Linked DNA regions of Homo sapiens. The protein of the gene in region 1 interacts with the protein of each later gene in a biochemical or structural test. Each region holds a gene or a part of one and is shown on either strand. Other genes may lie near its edges. The genes, in order: NFKB1, STAT6, PPARG, ECSIT, HMGA2, IRF8 and TNIP2.

Region 1 (4,349 bases):
TAATTCATGTTTTAAAATTCTTATTTATCTTAAATTTAATTGACAAATAGTAATTGTATATATTTATGAGGTACAATGTGATGTTTTAATCTAAGTTTACAACATAAAATGATTAAATCAGGCTAAGTTACAAATCCATCACTTCATATACTTACAATTTTTTCTGTGGTGGGTTATTTTCATATTTACAAGTCTTAATAGCTTCTTGTTTCTCACTACAACCCACTGATTGTTGATTTTGAGCACACCTAGTAGTAAATTTAGTTTTCTTAAATATCTGGTAGGAGTTACCTCCAGCTGATAATTTTATATTAACAAATCAAATTAAGGCTATGTTTTCACTGAAGAAATTTAAATAAAGTACTCAATAGAAACCAATTAACAAAAGTGCCATGATTCTATGCTGACATGGAAACTAAATTTACTAAATTAAAAAATACTGTCCCATGGACTGGCTCCTGAGACCAGTCAATATAGCTTTCCTACACCCATTTCATAAAAGGTATTATAAGATTCTAAATAACATAACCAGGATAATACAAGTATCTCACCAAGGGGGCTCAGCTGAATAAAAAAGGTGAGCTGCTGATACCTAATAGGTACTTAAATAGTCCATTTGACTATCCTGCCCACAAGGTATTACTTCGGTGAATGCAAATAAGATGTTTTGCAAACTGTGTGTTTTCAAAAATGAGTAAGACAAATACAATCACAAACGTATCTTTCAAATAACTGAGTTCACTGACAGAGAACAGCAATGTATCTTTATACAAATCAGTTTATTTCACAGGAGCCTAACTATGACATCCAGCCAGTCTTGTGACAATTTGCCTAAAATTCCCTTTTCATTGAGCAGTTACTGGCTACAGCAGCAGGTGAGCCACCAACCTCCTAGCTGTGTAGGTGACCACAGCACATGATAACTGGCAGGATGAATGATGGGAGGGTAGTCTAAATCTCAACTACAGTGATTATTTACTATACAAGACCCTTTTTTTTTGCCAAATTATTACTTGCCCTTATTTCTTTCATTTTCTAGGACTATCAACCTGGCCTGAAATGAAGTGATGTCCTCAAAACTTTAGATATTGTTGCCAAGAGCCTTCTTCTCAAAAATAAGTCAATGGAAACTGTGTTTACTAATCTGTGTTTTCTGAAATGCTACTTGGGGAGATGGGAAAAGGAAAGAGAATGAGATTGTGAAAAAAGGATCTGAAATTATAAGATAGTATACCATTCAGGAATTATAAATTATCTGTAGCTTGAATTTAATTAAAAAATATCTTATGAGTCGGAGAGGTTTTTTTTTTTTAATATTTTCTTCCACAGTCCAATCAATGGTTTTCCATGATATAAACCTTCTAGTTCTTAAATCCAAGGATTATATCTTAAACAATTATACCTTCATGCTATGGCTGTGGGCATGGGGACTTACACAGACATTCTGGAAAGCCAAATATACAAATGTCCCAGCAACCCAACTCTTGCAGATGTATCTGGGTGAAATTCTGACACAAATCCACAAGAGGACATAAGTGAGGACAGTCACTGCAGTATTATCTACTGAGGTAGGAAGTTAGAAGTTGGTTAAATGTCTACTACTAGGAAACAAGGATGTTATAGGTGAAAGACCCATACTAGATTCTCTTCAGGAGCTGAAACAACAAACTAGCTATATGTAGAACTGTGTGGATAAGCAGTGAAGGCAGAAATACAGTAACATGTAGCACAATGCCACTTAGGCATTTAAAAAATATATGCACAAAGAACTATACAGATACACACAAGTGTGTGTAAAACTGGTGAAATCTGATTAAGATCTGTGGATTGTATCAACGTCTATTTCCAGGTTTTGACACTGTTCTGAGGTTATGCAGGATGTTACCATTGGGGGAAACTGGGTGAAGAGACCTCTGGTTTCCTTGCAGTAAATACTAGGACTTCCTAGTACGTTTTTGTAACCTCCTTTGAATCTATAATTAAATTAAATTAAAAAAATTTTAAAGGTTAATGCAAGGCAAGAGAAGTACATTTAATATAATGTGGATTGTATGTGAGAGTATATGAAAATATCTATGTATTTCAAGTATACGTACATTTGTATCCAGTACTTGAAAAACTACCTATAAACACAATAGTGACATTTGTGCTAGCAGACCTGGGCATTGTCAGGGTGGGCAACTTTGACTTTCCAATGTAGATTCTTCTGTACCATTTTTAAAACTATGAATATACATGATATGTATAATAATTAAAAACATAAAAATACATAAAACCCTCCAATAATGTTTTATGGGAACATACACAAATAAAACAATCCATACCAAACACGATAGAGTGGTTGTCTATGTTGGGGGAAGGAGAATGAAAGGAGAAAAAGGCTTAAAGAGAATATTTTCATAAAAAATCCTAACTCGGTGCACTTGGACTATTTTGAGTGTGTTTCTAGAGGGTGGGTGGGGAGAGGAATTTGATCATGACAGATGGTCACAGAAATGTACTTAGATTAGTGAAAGGTATTTGGGAAGAATGCTTAACTGTCAAATAATCCAAATTATTTAGAGAACTGTATCATTTTCCATTAAGAATAGTTACTAGAGAACCTTTACAACAGATAATCAAGAGTTCAAATCTTAGCAGTTTCTAATTCTCAAATCAAAGTTGCCATTGGGTGTGTGTTTGACACCTAGAAGGCATACTAGGGAAGCCAGAATCACTGCCCATTAATCAGACTGGTGGTAAGGTAGGGGAAAAATGGACGTATAGTCTTCTGAGAGTCCCCAAATCAGAAGGGATAGAAGTATCAATGGTGGCGGTTTCAGGGTTTTTGTCTCTAACACACTGGAGAGTCTCAACATATGTAACCAAATGATACAGTAAAGAGTTTAGGATATAAAAAAAAAATCATAGCTACTGGCCAGACGCAGTGGCTCATGCCTGTAATCCCAGCACTTTGGGAGGCCGAGGCTGGCAGATTACGAGATCAGGAGTTCAAGACCAGCCAGACCAACATGGTGAAACCCCATCTCTACTAAAAATACAAAAATTAGCTGGGTGTGGTGGTGCACGCCTGTAATCCCAGCTACTCAGGAGGCTGAGGCAGAAGAATCGCTTGAACCTGGGAGGTGGAGGTTGCAGTGAGCCGAGATCGCGCCACTGCATTCCAGTCTGGGTGACAGAGTGAGACTCTGTCTCCAAAAAAAAATCACAGCTACTAATCCTGTTGTGCTGTGTCCTTTGCAGATCCTATTTATAAACATAAAATAAGTAATTCCTTGAATATGACTGTTAAGCAGGGTTTGAAAAGAGGACTGACAAGCTACAATGTCCCATTCCTGGTTTTATTCATAGATTTGTGATGACTACAAGGAACAATCAGCCAAAAGTCTGCGAGAATCAAGCTTTACAGGCAAAATGACCTTACGGATACCAATGACCCCAAAACGGTATGAAAGTTTCAAGAAGACATCCTTTAAATGTAAATCTACAATCACACTTCATACTAGTTATTTTATATTAACAGGCAGTGAAGAGTCACTAACTTTACTTTTCCTTTGACAAGAAGCACAAGAGCCAGTGAAGAAGCCTAATGGTGACTTATATTGAATGAAAAATGGTCATTTTCCCCTATCAGGAAACCTATTAATTTTTACCTAGTCACAGGTAAAAACTATTAAGAGCCACATGTAAACGTTTTAGTAGTTTTGCTTTAAATGCACTTTAAAGCACACTTTTTTTTTTTTTTTTGAGACAGAGCGTCACTCTGTCACCCAGGCTGGAGTGCAGTGGCGCGATCTCGCCTCATTGCAAGCTCAGCCTCCAGGTTCACACCATTCTCCTGCCTCAGCCTCCCGAGTAGCTGGGACTACAGGCGCCTGCCACCATGCCTGGCTAATTTTTTTTTTTTTTTTGTATTTCTAGTAGAGACGGGGTTTCACCATGTTAGCCAGGATGATCTCGATCTCCTGATCTCATGATCCGCCTGCCTCGGCCTCCCAAAGTGCTGGGATTATAGGTGTGAGCCACCGCACCCAGCCTAAAGCACATTTTAAAGAATGGAAATAAAAATAAGAAAATAGATATTTTAATTTCCTTTAAAGAAAATGAAGTTTTAATTAATTTTCTTTAAAATAATAAAAGCATTTTCCTTTAAAGTGAGGAAATAGAAATGATTCACATCACTGCTATAAAAACTGAGAGAGCAGGAACAAATATCTTTACTAAGTAAATAATTACACAGGATTTTGGCCATAGTTTTGGAGTGAGAGATACACGTGAACCAGCAAACCATCTCTCCAAGGAGGATGAGGAAGATGCTTCGGGTCGATGAAGGGAAGGAGACAAATGGA
Region 2 (4,349 bases), on another chromosome or scaffold:
GATGGGGAGTTTGCCGGGGCCAAGTGTGAAGCTGGCAGAGAAGAGCACAGCGCACTTCTCCTCTGTGACAGACTCAGTGCCCTTCCGCTCACACCGCTTGATCTTCTTGAGAAGCTGTGGGTGGGGTGAGGGAGAGCAAGGGCGAGGTCATGAGGACAGAGACCGCTCCTCCTGGGCTTCCTGACATCCTCTCCAAGGAGAGTCCCACAGTCTCCTAGTGGTGCCCCCCTCACTGCACCCCAAAGCCCCTCACCAGGTTCTTGAACAGGGCAGAGCAGCAGTTCCCAGGAATGCTGTTCTCCAAGGGCACAGTGTTGTTGATGATTTCTCCAGTGCTTTCTCTGCCAGGGGAGGTCAGAGTGTGAACGAGCTCATCTCACTGTCGTCAGGTGTGGCGAGTGCATGGGTGAGTGTAGACTACCCACTGTCACCAGCCCTAAATCTCCATGTCTCTGTTTGGGTTCTTAAGGGAGGAGTCCCCATCTTGGCCAAATCATGATGCCCCCACCCCATTCCAGCCCTAAATGGGTCCCTCCCTTTCCTCTGCCTTGACCATTCAGGGTCTCCACATCCCATGGCCCTCCCTCCCCATCCCTTGCTCTTTTCAGTGCCAGCCCTCCAGGCTGCCTCCATCACCCTAACAGCCCTTCTCCAACCCCAGGTCCAATCCCAGCTTACGCTCCAGCCCCAGGACCCTGAGGCACACTCAGCTCCCGCGCCTGCTTCTCTGTCACCATGTCGGCCCTGACCAGCGGAGGCTTGGCTGGGGCCCCCAGGAACCTCAAGCCCAACAGGAATCGAACTCCAGCCTGGAACTTGGTCTGAGTCTTCAGTACCTGGGGGGGCTGCTTCTCCACCAGGAAGCAACTGGGAGTGAGGAGGACACAAGGGGAGTTGGGGGCTAGGTCCCTGCTGGTGCCCTCCCCACAGCTCTAGCCCCCTTCTTTTCTTCCCGAGGTCTGTTCTAGGCCAGACTGGGAGCTCCCGGGGAATACCTGGTGACGAGGGTTCTCAGGACTTCATCCAGCCGGCCAGTCAGCGATGCCCGGGTCTTGGGCTCAAGCTCCCCACCAGCCGCCCCTACCTCCTGCTGTAGCTGGGAATAAATGTCCACCAGGCTTTCACACCTGGGGCCAGGACAGTGGTCAGGGGGCACAGGATTAAGGCTGCTTGCTCCGGCCCAGACCCCCTTCCCCTATACCCAGGGAGAAAGGCTATCATGTGTGGAGAAGTGGGGTGGGTAGTGGGTGTGGCTGCAAGGCACCTGGGCTGAAGGGGGTTCTGTGATCTGTTGGCCTAGGGTCTGGGTGGGAGGTTCATTCTCAGTGCCTACACCCCCTGTGGAAACCCAGCTGCCTCTCCCCCGACGGCTCTTGCACCCAGGACAACTGCCACCACTTACAGTGCTTTGTGGCAAATTGGAAAGTGTTCCCACCCAATAAACCAAATGGAAAAGCCCTCCTATTCCTCTAGGCATGGGGCTTGAGGAGAGAAGCCTGGGTTGGATGAGTCCCCGCTTGTGCCCCTCCACTAGGCCCACTTGTACAGGATGCGACCTGAACGACAGTGTGCACAGCCCCGCTGGAACTGGCTTTTATGCATCTTGGTCCACTCCAAGGCCCTCCCGCCTGGCTTCTTTCTCTCACCTGTAGGGCCTTCAGCAGGGTCAGCTGCCCACCCCCAGCTTGCCCCCTCTTCCCCATCAGCCCTAGCCCAACCTCTCCTGGAGTGGGGCCAGGCTCTCCTCAAACGGTGCGCCATTCCCTGCCAGCTGCTGCTGCCGTTTCCAAATCTGGATCCTCTTCAGCACTAGGGCTTTGGCTGCCTCTAGCTCTCCAGTGGTCTCCTGCAGTAGCATGGCCAGGGCCTATGGGCAGAGAGGGGCCTGAGCCAGGGCCTCACGCTGCCTCCACACCCAGCTCCTGGGATACGGCTCTTTTTCTCACTCCTCTGGCATTCCCTTGCCCTACTTCAGCCTGTGTCTTTCTGAGGTCTAGCTTCCATCCCTCCAGCTGCACTTTGACCAAGGTCTCCACCTGTCAGCCCATTACTCACCTCACTTGGCCCAGTCCCATTAGCAGGAGTTTCTATCAAGCTGTGCAGAGACACTGAGGGTTGGGGGCAGAAATCAAGGGTGCAGACAGATTAGAGGTTCAGATAAGGTTGAGATCCAAGAGGCAACCACTCCTACACACTCCCCAGAACCACCCTGGCCCCCACCTTGGCCAGCCTCAGCCCCCTTCTGCAGGGCTTCTCGGAGAAGGTGGATCTCCCCTACTCGGTGCTGCAGCCTCCGCAAGCCTGTCTTAAACTTGAGTTCTTCCTGCTTCCAGTGGAAAGGCATTGGCAAGTGGCGGAACTACACAGGAAGGACAGATGCCAAGAAGTGAAACACTCTGCTCATCCCTCTATACCTGGCCTCCACTCTCTGCTCTGCAGATAGCGTTTTCTTGTTCCCCTCTCCCCTTTGGCAGTTCTTCCTGACCTTTTGGAATATCGTGGAGATAAGACCTTGCTCCTAGCAGAATCAGCTCCTTATCCCTTGCTCTGTTCTCCCCGGCCTCTTACCTTCAGTCCCTCATAGAAAGATTCCCTGAGCTTGACTTGGGGTTCACTCTGACCCTAGGAACCTCCTTTGGTCATTCCTGGGCCTAGAACACTGAGCCTTTACTGAGGTTCAAATTCTTTCTAGTTTGTCATGGCTCAGGCCAAAGTCTCAGGGGATTGAGTTGGGGTGGGAGGTGGAATATCACAATACCTGTTCCATAACAGCTTTTTTCTCTCCTTGAAGTATTTGTCTGAAAGTGGCCACCAGCTTCAGGGGGTCCCTCTGATATATGCTCTACAGAAATGAGGGTGGTAAACAGTGAGCTTTGCTCTTACCCATGTCCTTCAATCCCTCCAATCCCCAGGCCTGCATTCACACATATACTATAAGGAAGCACAACTGTAGACTCCAGAAGTTTTTGTGCATTTGCATGCTTTTAAAATCTAATTTGCCTGCTAGCTAGCAGTTAACCACAGGAACACCAATTTGCTTCCAGCATCCAACCAATTTTCTTCCAGGGCCCAATGCTCAACCCAGTTCAACCTCAGCCCCACCCAGCCTTGTCCCCTCCCCTCCTGCCCCACCTCAAGGGTGCTGATGTGTTGCAAGATGGTGCTCCCCTCCCCCTGCTCTCCCACCGAGGCCTGAAGGTGCTGGACAGTGTCTGAAAGTAGGGCACTAGCCAAGTTGCAGCAGAAGGCGTCGGAGCCGACCAGGAACTCCCTGCAGGAAGATCAGGATGAGGCTACCTCAGGCCAGGGCTTCCTCAGCTCTCCTGACCCTTTACCCCACAGCCAAAAGCTCAGCAGTTCCTTTCTCGCTCCTTATTCTCCATCTAGGCCCTCTGTAGCTTTCACCCATGCGCCTTGTTTCCCAGTCTTCTAGCTGTTATGAGAAGTGCCTTTGTCCCAGCCCAAACCCCCCTCCTCTTCGGCTCAGCCTCCTAAGAGATGGGGTCTCCATCTGTCAACATTCATAGCCTGGTCTTGATGGGGCACAGACTCCCTGCTAAATCTAGGTCACTACACATGGAATAACAGGTCTCAAGTTCTGAATCCATGGGTGAGGGGAGAAAAATCTAAGGAGAAGGAAGATGAGTTAGGGAAGACTTGGGGGACCAGCAGGGAGCAGCCAGGACTCACCAGGGCTGGCTCTCCAGCCAGTCACCCAGAAGATGCCGCAGGTGTTGGGGAAAGTCGACATAGAGCCGCTGCACTTTTTCTGGGGGCATCTTGGAGACCAGACCCCACAGAGACATGATCTGGGACTTGGAGGTTGCCTGGAGGAGAAAAATAAGGCCACTCTGAGGGGTGCCCAAGAAACTTGGCCTATCTCCTGGGGCAGCCAGGGACCTCCCATAGATAGCCCTCCTAGGGACCGTCCCCACCACCACTCATGGCCAGACCACCTTAAACCAGGGGCATCCTGAGTCAATGCCTGAGATGGGGGTAACTCCTTCAGTGATAGACACAGGGGTGGGAAGAGCTGAGCTGTAGCCAGAGGGATGGGGAGGCAAAGGGAGACAGGGCAGTAGAGCGAGAGCTCTCTTAGAGTGGCAGAGGATTTAGTTGCAGCTCTAGACCTGGCTCTGGTTCTGTGGGCAAAGAGCCTTCCCTTTGTGGGCTTCGATCTTCTCATCTATAAAATATGAGTGTTAGATGAGTGGAAAACTTTCCAAACTTTTTAAAGCGGTAGGCAATGTCAGCTTTTAATCTGTGGAATCTCAATTACATAAAAGGTACGAAACCGAAGATGCCCTGTTGAAAGCAAGCATGGAAAGCCTGAAACTCGACTGCTTCTA
Region 3 (4,349 bases), on another chromosome or scaffold:
TGGAGATTCTATTCATATCTATGGAACTCTATGATTTTCATCAAAAGATTAAGTTTGTTCTAAACTGGAGGAAATAACACCAACATTGAGGAGTCTCAGATATTAAATATATTTCCAAACTTGTACGTCACATCAACACCCTTTACTGGAGTTATTCTGGAAGTTTTTACTTTTGTTACCAAAAAATTCACTTCAACTGTACTACTTAGCAAACTCCAAAAGAGGACAGATGTGAGGACCCCCAAACAGGTTTACTTGGTGGCTCTAATTTTTAAGGAAATTGGGACCAAACTGTCCTTACCGTATTTCTTAAACATTTTGCTTGGGTGGTTTCTTTCCTTTTTCTTTTTTTCTTTTCAGGATTAATATTATTAATGGGAGGAATACAAGGGGGGCAGAGCAAGTAACATCGATGAAAATTTACTGTATTTTTCCAGAACGTCAGGTTCTAATTATGAGAAAAATGTGAATGGATAATGATGCTTTCACAGAACCTAGAGAAAACGTGTTTCTTGTCCTCCAGGCATTTTACAGTGTATTATAATTTATATTAATGAAATATTTACTTTCTTTTTCTAAAAAAAAATTATTTCATTTTTTGAGATGAGGTCTTGCTATGTATGTTGCCTGGGCTGGTCTTGAACTCCTGGGCTCAAGTGATCGTCCTGCTTTGGCCTCCCTAAGTGCGTGCTAGGATTACAGGTGTGAGCCACCACAACTAGCCTTTATTGGCTTTCTTTCATGTCATGAGAAAATGATGATCTGGACACCTGAAAAGACCAACTGCACATGCAGGAGTACAAATAACATGAATATAAAATCATCACCTTTTCACATGTGGAAAGACTGTACCCAGAACTGCCCACTTCAACTTTCAGAGCTTCTGCTCAACCATTTGGCTTCTTGGCACAGAACATATGCATGAAATTCTTTCACCTCCATGTAAGTGATTTATCTGGAACTATGCCCTGATAAATCACCCTTGTCACTCTTCCCCTTTACTTCCCCTGTCCCCTCATATAAAGCTCCAGGTTCCTGTTTTTGAAACTCTGTAATAGTTGAACATAGGGCACAAAATCCTGCTAATTTTCTCTCCCAATTTAACAACAATGTGACTTTAACCCCTTGGCAATTGATGTTGGTCAGGATTTCCTGGCAGTAAATACTCAAGGACAGAGAGAGGAATCAGCACCCCACCATCATGCCAAACCATTTCATTTTTTTTTTTTTTTTTTTTTGAGATGGAGTTTTGCTCCTGTTGCCCAGGCTGGAGTGCAATGGCGCAATCTAGGCTCACTGCAACCTCCACCTCCTGGGTTCAAGTGATTCTCCTCAGCCTCCAGAGTAGCTGGGATTACAGGCACCCACCACCACGCCCGGCAATTTTTTTTAAATTTTTTTATTTTTTAGTATAGACGGGGTTTCACCATGTTGGCCAGGCTGGTCTTGAACTCCTGGCCTCAGGTGATCCACCCACCTCTGCCTCACAAAGTGATGGGATTACAGGCATGAGCCACCATGCCCGGCCCCATTCCAGCTTTTTCAATCCTTTCTGCATTCTGAAGAAGAGGTGAACTAGCAGAGAATTCTGGGTGTTGACATGCAAATGAACACCAGTTGTTTTATTTTTTCCCTAGTCATATCTGATTATACTGTTTTCACTGCATTTCCGAAGGCTGCATAGATTCTTTCAGCCTCCAGGTAGATCTGTCAAACTGCAAGAGTGATCCCTGGGTGGGCCTGGTCTGCCTTTCTTTGCAACCAATTCACCAATTCTTAGATAGCAGAGAGTTCACTTTCATATTTCACAGGGGACCTCCTTACCCTCAAACCTAGTGAGAAGATCGTGGCCAGCCTGCTTTATGGAGAGAGAACCTCTTAAAACCCTGGTCAAATTTGGTCTGCATTTTATCTTGAATCATTAATTTAACATGACATTTGGTACAATGTGGTACAATGTTCCATACAAAATGTACTGCACTTCCATGGCTGTTTTTTTGTATTTTTTACAAAGCAAAGTGGAGTCCTTACACTTTCCATCAGCTTGGACAGTATCATCCAAAGATTGCCATTATAGGAGCCGTATCATTCTCAAATTTTGTCTTAATGATTTTACACTTCTAGTTGGGGGCTAACAGTGTATTTATCTTCAGACCGTACATCAAAGGGCTGGGTAAGCGTCCCTCCTTAACAGGAAAGAAAGCTTAATTACAAATGGGACATGATGGGGTGAATTCAGGTTTTGTGGGGCATAAAATATACACAGTAGTGGAGTCTCTCTAAGGAAAATATTACAAATTATGAGAATAAAATTGCTTCGGCCCTTCCCCAAGCACTGGAAGGACTTCTGCACAAGGGAAGGGCCCCATGAAGCTTCATTAGCTTCATGGTGAATCTGTCACTGGTCATTGTGTGCTTGTGCTTTTCATATACTGGACAGACCAGAACGGAATGAAGAAAGCTGCACTTGAACCCAGTGTTTTTCCAGGAAAGCAAAATGATTTCTGTAAGGAGAAATCAATTTTTTGAGGGATACATCAAATATAATTAATTTTGATATATTTCAATTTTCAATATTTTGACATTTTGATTTTCAATTTTGACATATTTTGATTTTCAAAAATATATTTTGATTTTCAGGATGGGATTAAAAGTACTGTTTTATATAGATGAGTAAATTCAATTATAGATCTATGGCATGCTTCCTATGTAGAATACAAAGACAATGGGGGAAATGGGATTAATGATGAAAATAGAGTAATTAATTTTTTTTTTACCTTTTTGAATGGAGAAATAGAACAGTAGTGTTCCTGAGAAATCCAATAACATCAGCATTTTAACATGAGTTATGAAAGGTATTATACATGAATGCCCTAAGTTTACACTCCTTTTGAATAACAAAATAGCAAGCTACGGGAGATAAACATGAAAATCACTCAAAAAGCACAGGGTATTCTGGGTGACTTTTCTAATTTGGCAGATTGAATGAGTGTAGTCAACCCCTCTACCCTCTCTCAAACAATCACTTGAGGTAACCCTGTCAGAGTGAAAACTGGCTTGGAAAAATGTGTGCCTCATCGAGTGTGGCTTTCCTGATGTTCTTAGTTTTACCAGGGAAAGACACTGAATTCTTAGGGCTCATGTTCTTCATTTTGTTTCCTTCTTGCTTTTTACACATCTGACTTTCATCACCTTTGACACACCTGGTTCTCCTCGGTTAGCTACAATCCAAAACTCATTGGTTTGGTTTCCTCAGCCTCTCGTTGGTTTCTGCCCCTGTTGTTCCCGTTTCCCTCTTGTTGAGAACTATGAGATTTATAGGACATAAGGGGTCTTCAGAAGTAATCTGTCCCATCATTCTCTGACTAATGGATAAACGGAAGCCAGAGACATTCCAAAGTCAAAGTGCCATTTATAGCAAACCAGGAACTAGAACCTAAGCCCCGATTCTGGGTTGAGAACTTTTCCCTTTCCATTGCTTTCTATAGGACTTCCCCACTTCTTTTTTTCCTTTTAAAATGATTGTTCTAGGATGAACTGGAGATTTTAAACTAACGCTCTTAACATGCTGGGGTCTTGGGGCAGGGCCTTTTGAACCACTGTTTCCTAGAGGTGCTGGTGGAGTGCTGTGTGTGATAGAAGTGAAGTTTGAAAGCTGTCAAAGATATTCTGCTTTCCTGCAGGGTTTAGAGATTTACGACAAACAAATGAAAACTTAATATGAAGAATTATTCACATGCTAATGAACTAGCACATAACCACAGCTCTTAAAAAAATCAATTGCCAGCCAAAGAGTTACTCAGCAGGCAAACAAGGGTATTGGCCAACTGAGTCCAGCCATTGGAAAAAAAAAATCCAAGTGCTTTTCTTTTTAACTCTATAAAATATTATTTTTAACTTATTCTCTGAAAGAACACACTGGTTTAGATCTTTTACATCTTTAGCTATTCCTGACAGTCCTGGCAATAGAAGAATTTATTTTATTAATATTGATACATGGATGAATGATCCCAGAAGCCTAACTTCTCCAGCAGCCCCAGAAATGAATTGGCACTACTATCCTGATTTTATTTCTACTGGGGTCCCTAAGCCCCTTTCTCTGAGGATTCTGCCTGATGTCTTTCCTTTGGGGAGCAAATTCCAGCTCAGTCGGGCTTTTCCAGAGATAAAGGGAAAAGAACCCATACGTTGTTTAGCTGTAAGTGTAGGATTTAAAAGGACAGATATCTTTCCAATAGCTTTGAGTCACTGGGTTTGATGGCCATTGTAAATTTCAGAATGCACAAACTTAAATGGGTAAGGAAATGTTTTCATAGAAGTTTACATTTCCATATTGATTTTATTCTTCA
Region 4 (4,349 bases), on another chromosome or scaffold:
CTCGGCTCATTGCAAGCTCCACCTCCCGGGTTCACGCCATTCTCCTGCCTCAGCCTCCTGAGTAGCTGGGACTACAGGCGCCTGCCACCACGCCCAGCTAATTTTTTGGATTTTTAGTAGAGACGGGGTTTCACTGTGTTAGTCAGGATGGTCTCGATCTCCTGACCTCGTGATCCGCCCGCCTTGGCCTCCCAAGTGCTGGGATTACAGGCATGAGCCACCGCGCCCGGCGTAGCCACCTTAAGTCTTGAGATTACAGGCATGAGCCACTGTACCCAGCCCCTTCTTTCTTTTTCTTTTTTTCTTGAGACAGAGTTTCACTCGTCGCCCAGGCTGGAATGCAATGGTGTCATCTCAGCTCACTGCAACCTCTGCCTTGTGGGTTCAAGCGATTCTCCTGCCTCAGCCTCCCAAGTAGCTAGGATTACAGGCGCCTGCCACCATGCCCAGCTAATTTTTATGTTTTGTTTGTTTGTTTTTCCTGAGATGGAGTCTCGCTCTGTTGCCAGGCTGGAGTGCAGTCACACGATCTCAGCTCACTATAACCTCTGACTCCCTGGTTCAAGCAATTCTTCTGCCTCAGCCTCCCAAGTAGCTGGGATTACAGGCACATGCCACCATGCCCAGTTAACTTTTGTATTTTTAGTAGAGACAGGGTTTCACCATGTTGGCCAGGCTGGTCTTGAACTCCTGACCTTGTGATCCGCCCACCTCGGCCTCCCAAAGTGCTGGGATTACAGATGTGAGCCACCATGCCCGGCCTAATTTTTGTGTTTTTAGTAGAGACGGGGTTTCACCATGTTGGCCAGGATGGTCTCGAATTCCTGACCTAAGGTGATCCACCCACCGTGGCCTCCCAAAGTGCTGGGACCCTTTAAGAGATGGAGTCTAGCTATGTTGCCCAGGCGGGAGTGCAGTGGCTATTCACAGGCATGAGCCAACTGGTCAGCACAGGAGTTTTGACCTGCTGTTTCCAACCTGGGTCAGTTCACACTTCCTTAGGCAACCTGGTGGTCCCCCAAGTCCCAGGAGGTCACAATATTAAGCAAAACTTAGTGCAGGACACTCCATCAGCATAGTGCACAACAGCCCAGAACTCCTGGGCTCAAGTGATCCTCCCACCTCAGCCTCCAGAGTAGCCAAATTCTGGTTCTAGATGACACAGTAACAAATTTCTTATTTTAAATTGAATTTTTAAATTAGAAGGGTTACATATAAGGCATCTTAAAAATATACAGCTAGTTATCAAGGTTGTACTGTGCTTTGATTGCACCACCGCATTGCAGCCTGGGCAACATAGTGAGACTCCATCTCTCTATGAAAAAATAAAAAAATAAGCGGGGCGTGGTGGTGTATACCTGTAGTCCCAGCTACTCAGGAGGCTGAAGCAGGAGGACTGCTTAAGCCCAGGAATCCCAGGCTGCAGTGAGCTATGATTGTGTCACTGCACTCCAACCTGAACGAGAGAGTAAAACCTTATCTCTAAAAAATAAATGAATGTGTGTGTGTTTATCTACACACACACACACACACACACAAAACGCTAACAAGTAAGAGCCAATATTAGTCCAGGCTCGGTGGCTCACACCTGTAATCCTAGCACTTTGGGAGGCTGAGGCGGGCAGATCACCTGAGGTCAGGAGTTTGAGACCAGCCTGGGCAACCTGCTGAAACCTCATGTCTACAAAAAAATACAAAAATTAGCCAGGCATGGTGGTGAATGTATGTAGTCCCAGCTACTCAGGAGGCTGAAGTAGGCAGATCAATTGAGACTGGCGGGTCGAGGTTGCAGTGAGCCAAGATCACGCCACTACACTCCAGCATGGGCAACAGAGCGAGACCCTATCTCAAAAGAAAGAGACAATATTTACCAAATATTCTTCCACTGTAGACACAGTTGAGCACTTTACAAATGTGAGGCCCTAGGTGGGGGGTACTCTTACTGCACTCATTTTACAGATGAGAAAAACCAAGGCTCAGGAAGATGAAGTGGGATGCACAGTGTTACACAGCTGCAAAGCATCAGAGCTGAGAATGGAGTCAGTGCCCTCAGTCCCCCTACTCTGCGGTCCCCACAGCCATCCCATATCGTTCTTTGATAAGGCAATGTTAAAAAAAAAAAAAGGCATTCATTTACAGTAAAATTTCAGGTTGGGCGCAGTGGCTCGTGCCTGTAATCCCAGCACTTTTGAGAGGCGGGTGGATCACTTGAGGTCAGGAGTTTGAGACCAGCCTGGCCAACATGGTGAAACCCCATCTCTACCAAAAATGCAAAAATTAGCCAGGTGTGGTGCCGCACACCTGTAATCCCAGCTACTCAGGAGGCTGAGGCAGGAAAATCACTTGAACCCGGGAGGCAGAGGTTGCAATGAGCTGAGATCACGCCACTGCACTCCAGCCTGGGTGACAGAGGGAGACTCCATCTCAAAAACAAAAAACAACTGAAATTTCAGTCAATTAATAATATAGGTGGTGTAGTATTGTACCACTTTGGGGTAAAAATCAGAAAGGAAGCTCTAAAATGCCTAACGAGGGGGAAACACTGCAAAGGAGGTAATGTAAATGAAATGCATAGTGCGGGGCCGGGCACAGAGTAAGTGCTCAATATGGGAACTATTAATATTCCCACCATCATCGTTATTGCTATCTATGGCTGTCAATCTGCTTTCGCCATCTGGTCACTATGGGTATAGGAAAGAAATTCAGTTTTCTGCCCCATCTTCACAAGTAGATGCAGGAGGAGCTGCTCACAGTCACCACACAAATCCACCGAGCTCATACATCCTTATTTTCAAAGTCAATCCCCTCACCCACGTAGGCACTAGCATCTCTTAAATTAGGGTCCAGGCACAGTGGCTCACACTTGTAATCCTAGCACTTTGGGAGGCCAAAGTGGAAGGACTGAGGGCCCAGAGGTTCAAGACCAGTCTGGGCAACACAACAAGACCATATACTTAAAAAAAAAAAAAATTAGCGGCCGGGTGCGGTGGCTTATGCCTGTAATCCCAGCACTCTGGGAGGCCGAGGCGGGTGAATCACCTGAGGTCAGGAGTTTGAGACCAGCCTCGCCAACATGGCAAAACCGCGTCTCTACTAAAATTACAAAAATTAGCTGGGCGTGGTGATGTGCACTTGTAATCACAGCTACTCGGCAGGCTGAGGCAGGAGAATCACTTGAACCCAGGAGGCAGAGGTTGCAGTGAGCCAAGACCACGCCACTGCACTCCAGCTTTGGCGACAAGAGCAAAATTCCATCTAAAAAAAAAAAAATTAGCTGGGCATGGTGGCTCAAATCAGTGATCCCAGCTACTCAGGGGGCTGAGGTGGGAGGCTCATTTGAGCCCAGGAGTTTGAGGCTGCAGTGAGCCCTGATTCCACCACTGTACTCCAGCCTGGGTGATAGAGCAAGACCTTGTTTCAAAAAAATAAATAAATTATGGACTTTTGGCCAGGCGCGGTGGCTCACGCCTGTAATCCCAGCACTTTGGGAGGCTGACGCAGGTGGATCACTTGAGCCCAGAGTTCAAGACCAGCCTGCCCAACATGGTGAAACCCCGTCTCTACAAAAAAAATACAAAAACTAGCCGGGTGTGGTAGTATGTGCCTGTAGTCCTGGGTACTTGGGAGGATGAGGCGGGAGGATTGCTTGAACCTGGGAGGTCAAGACTACAGTGAGCTGTAATCACACTACTGCACTCCAGCCTTGGTGACAGAGACACTGTCTCAAAAAACAAACACATAAACATACATACATACATAAACTAAGGACTTTTAATGGGACCTCGGCACTGATAGGCCAGCCCAGACTCACCAGAACTGGCTTCACAGAGTGGATTCTGAAGGAGTTGGGAGCAAATCCCAAGCTTACCTCCCTCTACCCAAAAGACTGCCTGGCTGGTGCTTACCTGAGAGATGGAGGTTCCTGTGAGGGCGGCCCCGCAGGTGCCTCCCCAGGCCCTACAGAGGCCTCGGGCCAGTAGGGTGGCCTGGACCCAGCTCATGCCTCTGCTTGTCAGACAATCACCTGGCCCAAAAGAAGATTCAGCATTAGCCTGGCACCTTACAGATGCTAACAGACGCAAGGGCCCCGCAGGGTCGAGGGCACACTCCAGATTATGTGGCTCACTCACCAGCCCCAATGTTTACCTTACCCAAGAAACAGGCTGATGACTCAAAGACTTTGTTCTTGGGACAGCACCCTAATCCTGCTGCCCCAGGGGCGTGATCATAGCTCAATGCAGCCTCCAACTTCTGGGCCCAAGTGATCCTCCAGCCCCAGAGCGTCGAGAAGCTGGGACTACAGACGCGTGCCACCATGCCCAGCTAATTTGAAAATAGTTTGCAGAGAC
Region 5 (4,349 bases), on another chromosome or scaffold:
ACTCTGGTAAATGGTAGCACCTGGGTTTGAATTCACTTTAATTCTAAAGCTTATACTCTTTCCACTACCATGTGCTGAATGTTCTGTAAAATATTTGTTACAAGGTAGATTTCTGTTATCTCCAGTAACCTGAAATGCAGGTTGGAAATTACGCTTTGGGAAACCTTTGAAGGGCCACTCCAAAGGTTATAAAGGGATTGGAAATGTATGCCTTCTGCGACTGATACCCACAAGACTTCTGGTTCCCAAATAATATCATGGGGCTATGTCTTTGGGAATTGTAACACATCCAGAAGTTTTCTTCTTTGCTAAATGAGAGGGCTAGGTGAAATTATCTCTAGTTTTACTGAACTCTAGAATTCTGATGATAAGAGGGAAATAAGACACACATATAAACACTTTTCCTTCCTTTCCTCTTGCCCTCCCTCCCTCCCTTCTTCCTCCTTCCTTTTTTTCCTTCCTTCCTTCTTTCCTTCCCTCCCTCACTCCCTCCCTTCCTCCCTTCCTCCCTCCCTCCCTCCGTTCCTCCCTGCCTCTCTCTTTGCCTCCCTCCTTCCCTTCCTTCAACAAGTATATAGTGAACACCTCCTGTACACGAGGCACTAGTGCTAAGCACTGTTTTCAAGCTCAAGAGATGTATTTGCTAGTGAATTTCTTTCCTAATTAGTTTTTAAAATATGCAGTACATTGAAGAGCCTGGAGTACAGAACTTCTTAGAGAAAGAAATAATTATATTTCCCATTTAACATTTCTCCTAATCTTCATGGACTTGCTTCTAAATATATCATAAAATTAAGTGTACAGTTTTGAATCTGAAGTTTAAAACATAAAAATATTAATGAGGGCAAACAAGGGAGAAATGACACTTTTAATGAGATATGATTGTTGTAAATATTCGCATAATAGTGCTGGTAACAGTCTGAAATTTCAGTTCTTACCAATGAGAATTCCGACCATATCTCCCTTTTCTCTCTTGATGTGAGCAATAAATAGTGAGAATTAGTTATGCCTCTGTTATACATGGGTTTGTAGTATAAAGCCAAATTCTATTCTGGCAAAGGAAAACCAAATATACACTTCTACAGTATTGCATATGTTAAAACAAAACAAGCCTCCTGAATGTTTTGTTTGTCTTTTTTGAAAAATAATATCCTGAAGAGCATTAAACACAGGAAAACAATATTAAAGCTGATGTTTTCCAATATGTAAAAATCCTGGATCTAAGCTGGTTTACAAACTAAAACCCTAACTTGTTTTGCAGCCTTTGTGGAGTTTGATTAGAATGATTAAATAATGTGGGTTTTAAAGAACAATGAAAACCTCCCAGATTGACGCCACACAGCACAGCTAATGTGTTTCTTCTAGATGTAGTCTCAGAAGAGGGTTTCAGTTTACATGTAACACTGGCCTGAACGACCAAGGAGCAAGTTTGCTTTTAACAAGTCCGAGTGATAATCGTGATATTTTGCCCTTTAGTTAATGGTGCAAATTTTATTTCTCAATAGGCTTTTTGTAAATGAGATGCTCATTTAAAAGTCATCTTATTTGCAGGGCTTTTTCTGTTTTTGAGAGATTTGCTTTCTCTGATTTTGAAATACAGTGAAACTCTTTCAGAAAAAAAACCTCTCTCTTCAATAGATTTTAGATACACCCAGATCACATCATGGCCCCTGAAACATAACAACCGTGCAGAAAAAGCCTGGTGTAGCACTGTTAACTTCTAAGGTCAATAGGCTCCTTCTCCCACCCTGACTTCACACCCCCTTTTCAATAAAAAGGATTTCTATTTTCCATGTTTGTGTAATTTACTACTGGGTTAACTGTGCAATCTTACAGTTGCTTCCAAAGATTAAGTCAGATGCTGCTTCTGTGCTAGAGAACTCCACACTCATGTATAACTCACTATGCAATAGCCAAAGGGATCCTTAAAAGCCTCATTCTAAAGGTGACAGATGGGTGTGAAGGAATACTTGCATTGACCAAGGCTTCTGTGAGAGGAAACTAACTTGAAGAAAAACTCCCTTTCTGGGAGGCAGAGGCGGGCGGATTACGAGGTCAGGAGATCGAGACCATCCTGGCTAACATGGTGAAACCCCGTCTCTACTAAAAATACAAAAAATTAGCCGGGTGTGGTGGCAGGCGCCTGTAGTCCCAGCTACTTGAGAGGCTGAGGCAGGAGAATGGAGTGAACCCGGGAGGCGCAGCTTGCAGTGAGCAGAGACCGCGTCACTGCACTCCAGCCTGGGCGACAGAGCGAGACTCCGTCTCAAAAAGAAAAAAAAAAAAAAAGAAAAACTCCCTTTAAGGGTTCCATCTAGTTAGGAGTGAAAGAACACTTATGGAGCACCTCATGGGAGGCAGGAACTTCTAAGTACTTCTAGGAATGATGTCTCACAGGAGGAGTCATCTCCATTGCACGGATGAAACCAAATTGAGGTCTTCAAGGACCTGCCCAAAGTCATAAAGCTAAAATGGAAGAGCAGGAATTGGAATCTAAGCGTTCCAAGGTAGAGTCTGTGATCTTCTCAGGGCACCTCCCTCTCCATGAGGCAATGCTCTGAAGAGGGTATTATTTACTTGACACTCTGGGCTTTCGCTAAATTCATGCCCTTGGGACTGAAGGTAAGACAATGCCACTAACCTCTGACAACAAATGATTCCTTTGTGGAGCCATTCAAAAGTGATAATAAACAATGATTCAGAGTGTCCAAATCAGATGGTTAGATAGAACCCCTAAAGGCTACCAGGTTTTCTTTTGTCCTGGGAAATTAACTGAATCAGTGACAATTTTAGTTTCCTAAAGTATTTTTTTATGGTAGCAAATGCTTGTATACTACCGGGTAGTAGCATTGTTAAGAGGCTAGGAGCACAGTCTTTACAGTTAGACAAAACTGGGTTCAAATCCCAGGTCTGCCACTTACCTGCTTTGTTTGTGACCTTGAGCCAGTTGTATACCTAACCTATCTAAGACTTAGTTGTTCATCTACAAAATAAGAGGAATAATAATACCCACTTTATAAGGCTGCTGTAAGGATTAACGTAACACATGTGACTGACAATCGAGTGCCTGGGATATTTTAAATGCTCAATATTTGTGAGTTAACATTACAGTCATATAGAGTTTGCGTTAATTCATGGGACCTGTTGGATAGTAATGCCAGATCAGGGAGATACTATTTGGTGAGAAATGTTGTGGCTTATTTTATCTCTCATCTACCTGTCTGTCTATCTGCCTATCCATCTATCTGTTTGTCAACTATCATGTAAAGCTATTTGTTTTTACCAGGCAGATTGAAGAGAAAAAGAGGAAAGTTTCATTTGGCAGTGTAGACAGTCAATATCACTGTACCAAGTACCCCCACCGGCTGCTAACTCAGATAACAAAAGTAAAATGTGGAACAAGGTATCCTGGTTCAAGTTACCTGTATTTGTGTGTTAATATAGCCATGGATGATTCTTATACATGAAACAATATGTACTAAGTTTTCTTTATCCTAAAAAGCAGGAACACGTTTTTATAGATGTATGTGATATGTGTGTGTATTGGTGTGTTGTTGTGTATGAAGATTGGACTAGGGCTGACAAAAACGGAAAAACTAATTGCTTTATAAATAATGTTAACAACTGTGATATCAGAAAAATCTTCTGTGAAGTAAAGCAATGAAATAAACTCTCAAGATAGAAATGTATTCATGTTAAGTGTGGGATTATGGTTAATAAAGTACATTTTTAATTAATCATTATTTCTAGGCACATATAGTTTTAATCACTGGGACAAACTGATGATTTCTGCCTGCTTTTTTTTCCTCTGCTTTAGGTGAACTGATTGACAGGTGATTGTTTCAGGCAAGGAACATTAAATTAAACATGTAGAAGTGTGCAAATATTTGTTATTTTGAATTAGAATGCTTGTGTATTCTTTTTCACATTTATACTTGCTTTTGACTACCAATATAGGTAGAAGAGCTTTGTAAATTGTAAAGTAATATGTCAATATTAATTTTTGCAACTTTAGTTGTGACATGGAAAGAATCTTGATCATCTTAAGAAATATTAATTTTCTAAAATACTAACTTATGTAGTTACAGAATGTGGGGATAATGTTTTTAATATGGACAGAAATAAAAGCAAAATAGCTTTTGAAAAAGCATTTTCATGTATTTCAGAAGAGATCACTACAGGGGGTGTCTTTTAGGGCGAGGGGTTGCATAGATACCTCTTTACATCATGCAATGAAGAAGAATCTACTCAGAAATGTGGAAAAAGATTAACCTTAGAGGAGACGAAGTTTGTTAAAAAAAACAAAAAAAAAAAAACCGATACGTCATCTGCAAAGCAGAACATTCTTA
Region 6 (3,500 bases), on another chromosome or scaffold:
TTGCTTTTCTTGTGACCCCGGTGTGGCAATCCGATTATCTCACTCTCTCAGCTGAGTCAGCAGAAAAGCCTTCTACAGAAAACAGGACATTGGTGGAGGGCCACGAAGCCAAGAATTCACTCAGTCGGCTGCCAAAGACCACCCAGACACTTGGCAGCTGCCTGTGCAGAAGAGCAAGGCCGTTCGGGTAGGTTACATTCTGTTATCTTCATTCTCTGACAGCCAAGCTACTCTTAAGGATTCCATTATTGCTATGTTATTAAGAAGAAGAATTTATGCAGTACTCACACACAACCTTTTGCAAAGGCTGCACGAGGTTTAGTCATGCAAATGTCCACCTTGTAATACCCATGAAAAGCATAGTTAAGAGGCCAAAGACAGAAGAAAAGGGCATCCCAATAGCTGAAATGGGTATACAAAAGCCATGTATTCTTGCCTAAGGAGGCCCCGATTATGCTCTCCCTTGTAGCCTGTTAGGAATTTATGTGCAATGTGAACATGCTTGGTTATCCAGCTTTCCAATCCGTTAAGGAATAAAAACTGCACATTAAAAAGGAAGCAATCAAATAGCCATGAGAGCTGGTACAACAACACCCGCCATCATGACAAGCGCAGGCAGCAAGGAAAGTTTACATTTTGTTCTCTGTAGCCTGCTAGGAAGGCAAGGGAATTCACGATGCCATTTAAAAGACTGCTGTCCAAAGTGTTCGAACAGTTTGGAGCTGGAAGGAACTTCACTGACACATAACCGGCAGCTCAGGCCCAGCCCTAGGGATGAAGGAGGGATCTGGCGTGAGGGGTTGACCTGTCGGCAGAAGCTGGCCTGGGGAGGGGGCGCCCAGCCAGTCCTTCCGTTCCAGATCTGTACAGGTGGAGATGCCACTTCCTCAGCGAGCCCGAGGGTCTGGCTGCCTTCATACAGCAAGAACGGTGCCCCTCCCTGCCAGAAGACATGAGACTCCTCCTGGCAGGGCCAGACCCCTGAAATGCTGCCTCTGCTTACCTCCTTGATCAGCTCGTCGATTTCAGAGCGACCGCACTCCATCTCTGTAACTTCATTCACGCAGCCAGCAGTTGCCACGCCTAGTTTGCCTACAGAAAACCAGACAAACACCATGACACATGGCACGGAGGCATCACAGCCTTTGCTGAAGCCATAATCTACTCTGTAAATGCTGAGTTTAAGGAAACATTAAGTTAGTGAGTGTCTTCATTGGTTTGGGAAAGGCACAGAATTTTTTTCCCATGCTTCAGTCATCTGATCAGCAAAGTCAAAAGAGAGAAGTTGGTGGTGGTGGTGGTGGTGGTTGTTTCTGCTAACACTTTTAAAGGATAAAGACAGCACTTTGGTCTCTTTCTTCTATTTTCTGAGATCCAAAATGAGTCTGTATCAGATATACTTTACAGCAAGCATTTGCTAACTTAAGAAGGTTACATTTATAAGACAGGGCATTTGAAAACACTCACCGATTTCCTGGCAAAACGTGTTGGCAGGTTGGGGTCTTTTTTGTATTGCCAGTTGGCAGGAAATCTCTTTTTGGCCTTTCCAAATATACACATGTGCATCAGTGCACACAGCCATGCACACACACACACCGCAGCACCCTCACTGATGCCCAGTGGGCACCAGCCGTAATCACAAACCGCCTAAAGGTGCACAGTGTCCACAGGGGCACGCTGGGCCAGCCTCTGCTCTTTCCCTTCTCATGCCGCTTCCTCAGTCGACAACTTACCTTATGAAGTTTATCAGTGTGAGACGTATCACAACCAACACTTACAAAAATTCATTATTCCCAGTGACCTACAGAATTTACCCACTGTTTCCTCCTGGCTGAATTTTGATTCCATTTCGATAGATTAAAGAATTCACTGAGAAGCTACTGATGGGGAAGTAGGGAGCAGGTGGGGCGCCCACCATGGAGCCTGCAAACCACTGAGGTTAGAGGCGAGTGGGCCCCTGTAGGCAATTATGCAAATGCTACATTGCTTCACCCCTGAGAACCTCCTGCTGCTTCTTTAACATCACTAGCAGGTGATGCTGGCTGCACCCCATGCTATAAACAAGTTGGGGTCACCTGCCGGTTCAAGCCTGACTGATCTTGGGGGTGGCAGTAGGGGCCAAAAGAAACTTCTCTATTCCTTCAAATCACACTTTACTTTTTGGTGATAAAAAAAATTGTCCAAAACTGGGAAATGAGGCAAAAAGATGACTGCTTAGCCTTTCAGGGTCACCCCAGACTATTATATAGAGGTTTCCTCCTAAAGGGCACCCGATTCTCCAAGGGAAGGTCAGTTTGTTGGCCTTACTATTTAGTATTGACTAGGGTTCACGCTCAGTAGAGTTAGGTGCTAATTGCAGACGATTAGGCTACAAACGCCCCAAACCGCAATTGTACTGTCCGGGTCGGGCATCGGCTTTGGCTCAGCTTTCTCGTTCATGGGCCACATTCACCAGCACCTCGGATTCTCTGTCCACCATCTTTACCATCATGCTGCCTCCTTCATGACGATTACACAACTCTCTGACACAGATTCACTATAGATTTGTTTGAATCACCATTTTAACTTCTTAAAAAATTCTAAGTCAACACCCCCACAGCGGGAAGAGTGCAAACTTCAAACTTCTGCACAGCCCCAAGAAGTTTTGGGGGTTTCTGTTTCTTACAGGCATTCGTGGACTACTCAGAAGCTTAGAAGGAGAAAGCCAGAGTGGGTTATTCTAAAAGCCTCATCAAGTGGCTAAGAAAATCAATGTGTTAAAAGCATGTTCTAAACCAGCGCTGGTAATTAGGTTTTATCTCATAAATCAGCTACAATTCATGGCAGCGGCACAGCACAGGGCTTTGAGAAGCCTTCTGAGGCCAGATCCCAGCTCAGTACTTTGGGATTTATTTTAGTGATGTAGGACCAGGGTGCGGCATGTTTTTGCTGTCCTGCTTTAATCTGTCACAAATGCTTTCTTGGGATTTGAGAGCTGGAAGAAACCTCAGGAATGATCACATCCCGGAGTTCCCAAATAACAATCAGGATCTAGTAACACACTGAGGCATATCCCATCTCCAACAACGAAGGCCATGGTGCCATCTTTGACAACTTCATCTGAGAGCTTTACTCCCAACCCTCATGATCCAGGCCTTCTGTGGTCACCATATTTTCCCCTGGCCTCCTCTGCAAGCTGCTGGAAAATGAAAGGATTCCTCATCAGAAACTGCTGGAGGATGCTTGTTCCTGTCCAGGGAGGCCCTACAAATGTCTGTGGTCAGGCAGCAAGTGGGGCACAGGTTGGGCAGCACCCAATCTCCTCCGCCCTTCCCTCTGAGGTCACTGGAAAGAGATCTCAATTTCTGCTTACACGAAGGAGAGAACTGCTTTGTTTAACTGAAACTATGTGCCCCAGACCCTGTGTCTACCCCAGACCCAAGTTCTGTGGTGAAGGCTACAGGCCAGGGCAGCTTCTGGAAGGTTTCATGCCCATAAAGGATAGTTACATTTTTGCTCTT
Region 7 (3,898 bases), about 100 Mb from region 1:
TTTTGAGACAGGGTCTCACTCTGTTACCCAGGCTGGAGTGCAGTGGCACAAACATGGCTCACTGTGGCCTCAACCTCCTGGGCTTACGTGATCCTCCTGCCTCAGCCTCCCATATAGCTGGGACCACAGGAGTGTGCCATCACACCTGGCTAATTTTATTTTTTTTTTGTAGAGACGGGATCTTGCTGTGTCGCCCAGGCTGGTCTAGAACTCCTTTCTTCAAGTGATCCTCCTGCCTTGGCCTCCCAAAGTGCTAGGATTACAGGCATGAGCCACCACGCCCAGCATGGGGGGATTTTTAATTATTTAAGGAACATTTTAATGATTTAGTTTTGTTTGTTTGTTTTTTTATTTTTATTTTTATTTTTTTAGAGACAGGGTCTTGGTCTGTGACACTGCCACCTAGGCTGGAATGCCTTGGGGCCATCATAGCTCACTGTAACCTTGAACTCCTGGGCTCAACCAGCCCTCCCATCACAGCCTCCCGAGTGTCTAGGACTATAGGCGAAGAGCCTACCACAAGGACTATGAGCCACCACACCTGGCTAACTTCTTAAGTTTTTGTAGAGAAGGGGTCGCATGATGTTGCCCAAGCTGGTCTCAAACTCCTGGCCTCCAGGGATCCTCCTGTCTCGGCCTCTCAAAGTGCTGGTATTACAGGCGTGAGCCACTGTGCTGGCCTTATCTGGTATTTTATGCAATTACATATTTATTGCTCATCCCAACGTTCAATCTGAGGTCGGTCATGGAACCTGTGGAAGAATGGAGAGGTTTGTCACCTCCTGCAGGCCCTGGGTTCACTGAGGTGGCAGTGCAGAGTTAAAGACACAGCAGGAAGCAAGCCGTTGCTAGGTTGCTCTCATCTATGAGAGCCCGTTAGGAGCAGGAACCCTGGACCAGTAGGGACTGAGGGCTCCCAGAGAGAGTGCTGAGGCTCAGAATGTGGAGGAGCTGACCAGTGCGTCTGTGATCAAGCTGCGGTCAGTGTGTGATGGGGCAAGATCAGGCCAGAGAATTGTGGTCCTCAGTGCAGCCACAGCTGGACTTGAGACCTTACCTCATCTGTAACACAAGGCCTGAGTGGATAACTTTACAAAGCCCCTCCAGTTAATACTTTCTGGAATAATGGCACCAATTCATTGTGCAACCTGGTCCTGCCCAACCCCATCCTGTCACCATTCTCGGGACCAGCTTCATAGGCTTTGCCTGGTCCTGGCGTATCAGCCCCCTTTCCCTTCCGGCTTAGCTTAGCTTTGCTTTGCTTGTTTTCTTGGCTCTTTCTTTTCTTTTCTCTTCTCTTCTTTTCTTTCTTTCCTTCCTTGTTCCTTTTTTTTTTTTTTTAAACTGAGTCTTGCTCTGTCGCCAGGCTGGAGTGCAGTGGCGGGATCTTGGCTCAGTGCAACCTCCACCTCCCGGGTTCAAGCGATTCTCCTGCCTCAGCCTCCTGGGTAGCTGGGACTACAGGCGCCCACCAGCACGCCTGGCTAATTTTTTGTATCTTTAGTAGAGGCGGGGTTTCACCATGTTGGCCAGGCTGGTCTTGAACTCCTGACCTCGTGATCCACCCACCTCAGCCTCCCAAAGTGCTGGGATTGCAGGCATGAGCCACCGCCCCGGGCCACCTTCCTTGTTCCTTTCTTTCTTCCTTTCTCCTCCCCTCCCCTCCCCTCTTTTTGACAGGGTCACTCTGTTGCCCAGGCTGGAGTGCAGTAGCATGATCATAGCTCACTGCAGCCTTGACCTCCTGGGCTTAAGTGATCCTCCTGTCTCAGCCTCCCGAGTAGCTGGGACTACAAACGCCCACCACCATGCCTGGCTAATGTTTTTTGTATTTTTTGTAGAGACAAGGTCTCGCCATGTTGCCCAGGCTAGTCCCAACCCTTGGGCTCAAGTGATCCTCCCACCTCGGCCTCCCAAAGTGCTGGGATTACAGGCTTTGGGAGAATACACTTCTGTTGTTTAAGACACCAAGTTTGTGATACTTTGTTGCCGCAGCGCTAAAAGCCAAGAGGCCACTGTGCCTCTTAAGGCCAATCCACAAGACTATTAATAGAGCTGTTTACACTTTTGTGTTCTGAGCGTGGAGCTATGGAGTTGTGGGTCCCGGCGACAGGCTTTCCTGAGAGATGTCAGCCCAGTTGCTGACTAGTCTGTGTGTTGTGCCTGTGTGTGTAGACCCACAACTCCAGCTCGTACCTTGTTTTCTGACCACAGTGGTCGAGGTGCTGTTGTGTCCTAAGAACTGTTACTAACTGGACAAGGCACTCAGACAGATAAACCAGCACAAAGCTCTGCAACTTCAGAGCCAGTGACAAATGCCAGAAGCCCGGGGGCTGGAGGGGTCCTGGGGCCCTCATGCTGCCGAGGGGAGGATGAGTGGGGCAGCCCTTTGCAGGGCTGGCCTGCCCCCACGGGTTGAGCGTAGAGCCTGCGTCCTGATCTGTCTCTGTATGGCCCAGTCTTATTCCCATTTACTGGGCATCTGTGTGGGGCTGGGCTCAGTGTTGAGTACTAGGGTGTGGAGGCAAGAGAGAGCCACGCCCTCAGGATCTACGAGCTGTGGACATGCTGCCCTCCTGTTTGTGGAGCTGTTTGTTTCTCCTACTGTCAGCATTTGACCAACGCAGGAAGGAGGCTCCGAAATCAGATTTTACCTGGGCACGGTGACCCCTGCTGAGGCAGGAGGAGGATTGCTTGAGGCCAGGAGTTCAAGACCAGCCTAGGCAACATAGCCACACCCTGTCTTTATCAAAAAAAAAAAAAACCAGAAGTCAGGTTTTGCTCAAAGTCCTTTATCCCTGAAGAGGGTCTCACTGTCACCCAGGCTAGAGTGCAGTGGCACCGTCACAGCACACTGCAGCCTTGACCTCGAGCCCATGGTCCCAGCTATTTGGGAGGTTGAGACGGGAGGAACACTTGGACCCAGGAGTTCAAGGCTTCGGTGAGCTGTGATTATACCACTGTATTGCAGCCTCGGTGTCAGGGCGAGACCCTGTCTCTAAAATAATAAAATAATAATAATAATAATAATAATAATAATAATAATCAGGGTTCTCGCAGTAATAGGGCTTAGTATTTTGTTCCATTGTGATGAGAACATTCTAGGTTCCCGGTCTCTGTCCCTTCTTACCTCAAGTACTAGACACAGAGGCTGGACCCTTCTCCCGCCACTTCTGGGGGAAGCTTGGGCTCCTCCGTGACTTTTCTGAAACTGTTTCTTCACTTGTGGGATGGACTAGTTGAGCCTGCTTCACCTCCTTCATGTAATGTACTGTTTATTTTGGAGGATTCTTTGAAAACGGAAAAGTACAAATTTAAGGCCAGATATTAAAAAATTGTCAGGTCAGATGTGGTGGCTCGTGCCTATAATCCCAGCACTTTGGGAGGCTGAGGCAGGCGGATCACTCAAGTCCAGGACCAGACTGGGCAAAGTGGTGAAACCTTGTCTCTGCAAAAAATACAGAAATTAGCCAGGTACGGTGGCATGCACTTGTAATCCAACTACTTAGGGTGCTGAGGCAAGAGGATCACTTGAGTCTGGGAGGTGGAGGCTACAGTGAACCATGGTGGCACCACTGTACTCCAGCCTGGGTGACAGGGCGAGACCCTATCTCAAAATAAAATTGTCATTTTAAGAACCTTTTTAAATTCTTTAAGAAGTAATTGGGGTTGGGTGTGTTAATTTCCTAGAGCTGCTGTAACAAAGTAACACAAACTGGGGGGCTTCAAGCAACAGAAATTTAATCTTTCACAGTTCTAGAGGCCAGAAGCCAGAAACCAAGGCATCGGCTCTCTCTCAAGGTTCTAGGGAAGGACCCTTCCTCGCCTCTTCAGCTTCCTGTGGGGGCCACCAATCCTTGGTGTTCCTTGGCCTTTATCCACAAGACAAGACGTCACT

Evidence for each region.
Region 2: the proteins of NFKB1 (region 1) and STAT6 form a complex in vitro, tested with the Homo sapiens proteins (one study listed by BioGRID).
Region 3: the proteins of NFKB1 (region 1) and PPARG form a complex in vitro, tested with the Homo sapiens proteins (one study listed by BioGRID).
Region 4: the proteins of NFKB1 (region 1) and ECSIT form a complex in vitro, tested with the Homo sapiens proteins (one study listed by BioGRID).
Region 5: the proteins of NFKB1 (region 1) and HMGA2 form a complex in vitro, tested with the Homo sapiens proteins (one study listed by BioGRID).
Region 6: the proteins of NFKB1 (region 1) and IRF8 form a complex in vitro, tested with the Homo sapiens proteins (one study listed by BioGRID).
Region 7: the proteins of NFKB1 (region 1) and TNIP2 form a complex in vitro, tested with the Homo sapiens proteins (one study listed by BioGRID and IntAct).

The regions. Positions count from the first base shown.
Region 1 is NC_000004.12:102,601,937-102,606,285, reverse strand, and holds part of NFKB1 (nuclear factor NF-kappa-B p105 subunit), read right to left. Parts: exon of another isoform or gene 4,255-4,349; intron 3,772-4,254; exon of another isoform or gene 3,300-3,771; intron 1-3,299.
Region 2 is NC_000012.12:57,104,473-57,108,821, forward strand, and holds part of STAT6 (signal transducer and activator of transcription 6), read right to left. Parts: intron 3,828-4,349; 5' UTR 3,807-3,827; coding exon 3,691-3,806; intron 3,272-3,690; coding exon 3,133-3,271; intron 2,843-3,132; coding exon 2,759-2,842; intron 2,360-2,758; coding exon 2,221-2,359; intron 2,109-2,220; coding exon 2,056-2,108; intron 1,868-2,055; coding exon 1,719-1,867; intron 1,128-1,718; coding exon 996-1,127; intron 868-995; coding exon 679-867; intron 342-678; coding exon 254-341; intron 120-253; exon of another isoform or gene 115-119; coding exon 1-114. UniProt on the Homo sapiens protein: Carries out a dual function: signal transduction and activation of transcription. Involved in IL4/interleukin-4- and IL3/interleukin-3-mediated signaling.
Region 3 is NC_000003.12:12,410,706-12,415,054, reverse strand, and holds part of PPARG (peroxisome proliferator-activated receptor gamma), read right to left. Parts: intron 1-4,349. UniProt on the Homo sapiens protein: Nuclear receptor that binds peroxisome proliferators such as hypolipidemic drugs and fatty acids.
Region 4 is NC_000019.10:11,515,170-11,519,518, forward strand, and holds part of ECSIT (evolutionarily conserved signaling intermediate in Toll pathway, mitochondrial isoform 1 precursor), read right to left. Parts: intron 4,025-4,349; 5' UTR 4,002-4,024; coding exon 3,906-4,001; intron 1-3,905.
Region 5 is NC_000012.12:65,834,091-65,838,439, forward strand, and holds part of HMGA2 (high mobility group protein HMGI-C), read left to right. Parts: intron 1-4,349.
Region 6 is NC_000016.10:85,909,162-85,912,661, reverse strand, and holds part of IRF8 (interferon regulatory factor 8), read right to left. Parts: coding exon 3,489-3,500; intron 1,093-3,488; coding exon 1,004-1,092; intron 1-1,003. UniProt on the Homo sapiens protein: Transcription factor that specifically binds to the upstream regulatory region of type I interferon (IFN) and IFN-inducible MHC class I genes (the interferon consensus sequence (ICS)). Can both act as a transcriptional activator or repressor.
Region 7 is NC_000004.12:2,749,546-2,753,443, reverse strand, and holds part of TNIP2 (TNFAIP3-interacting protein 2), read left to right. Parts: intron 1-3,898. UniProt on the Homo sapiens protein: Inhibits NF-kappa-B activation by blocking the interaction of RIPK1 with its downstream effector NEMO/IKBKG.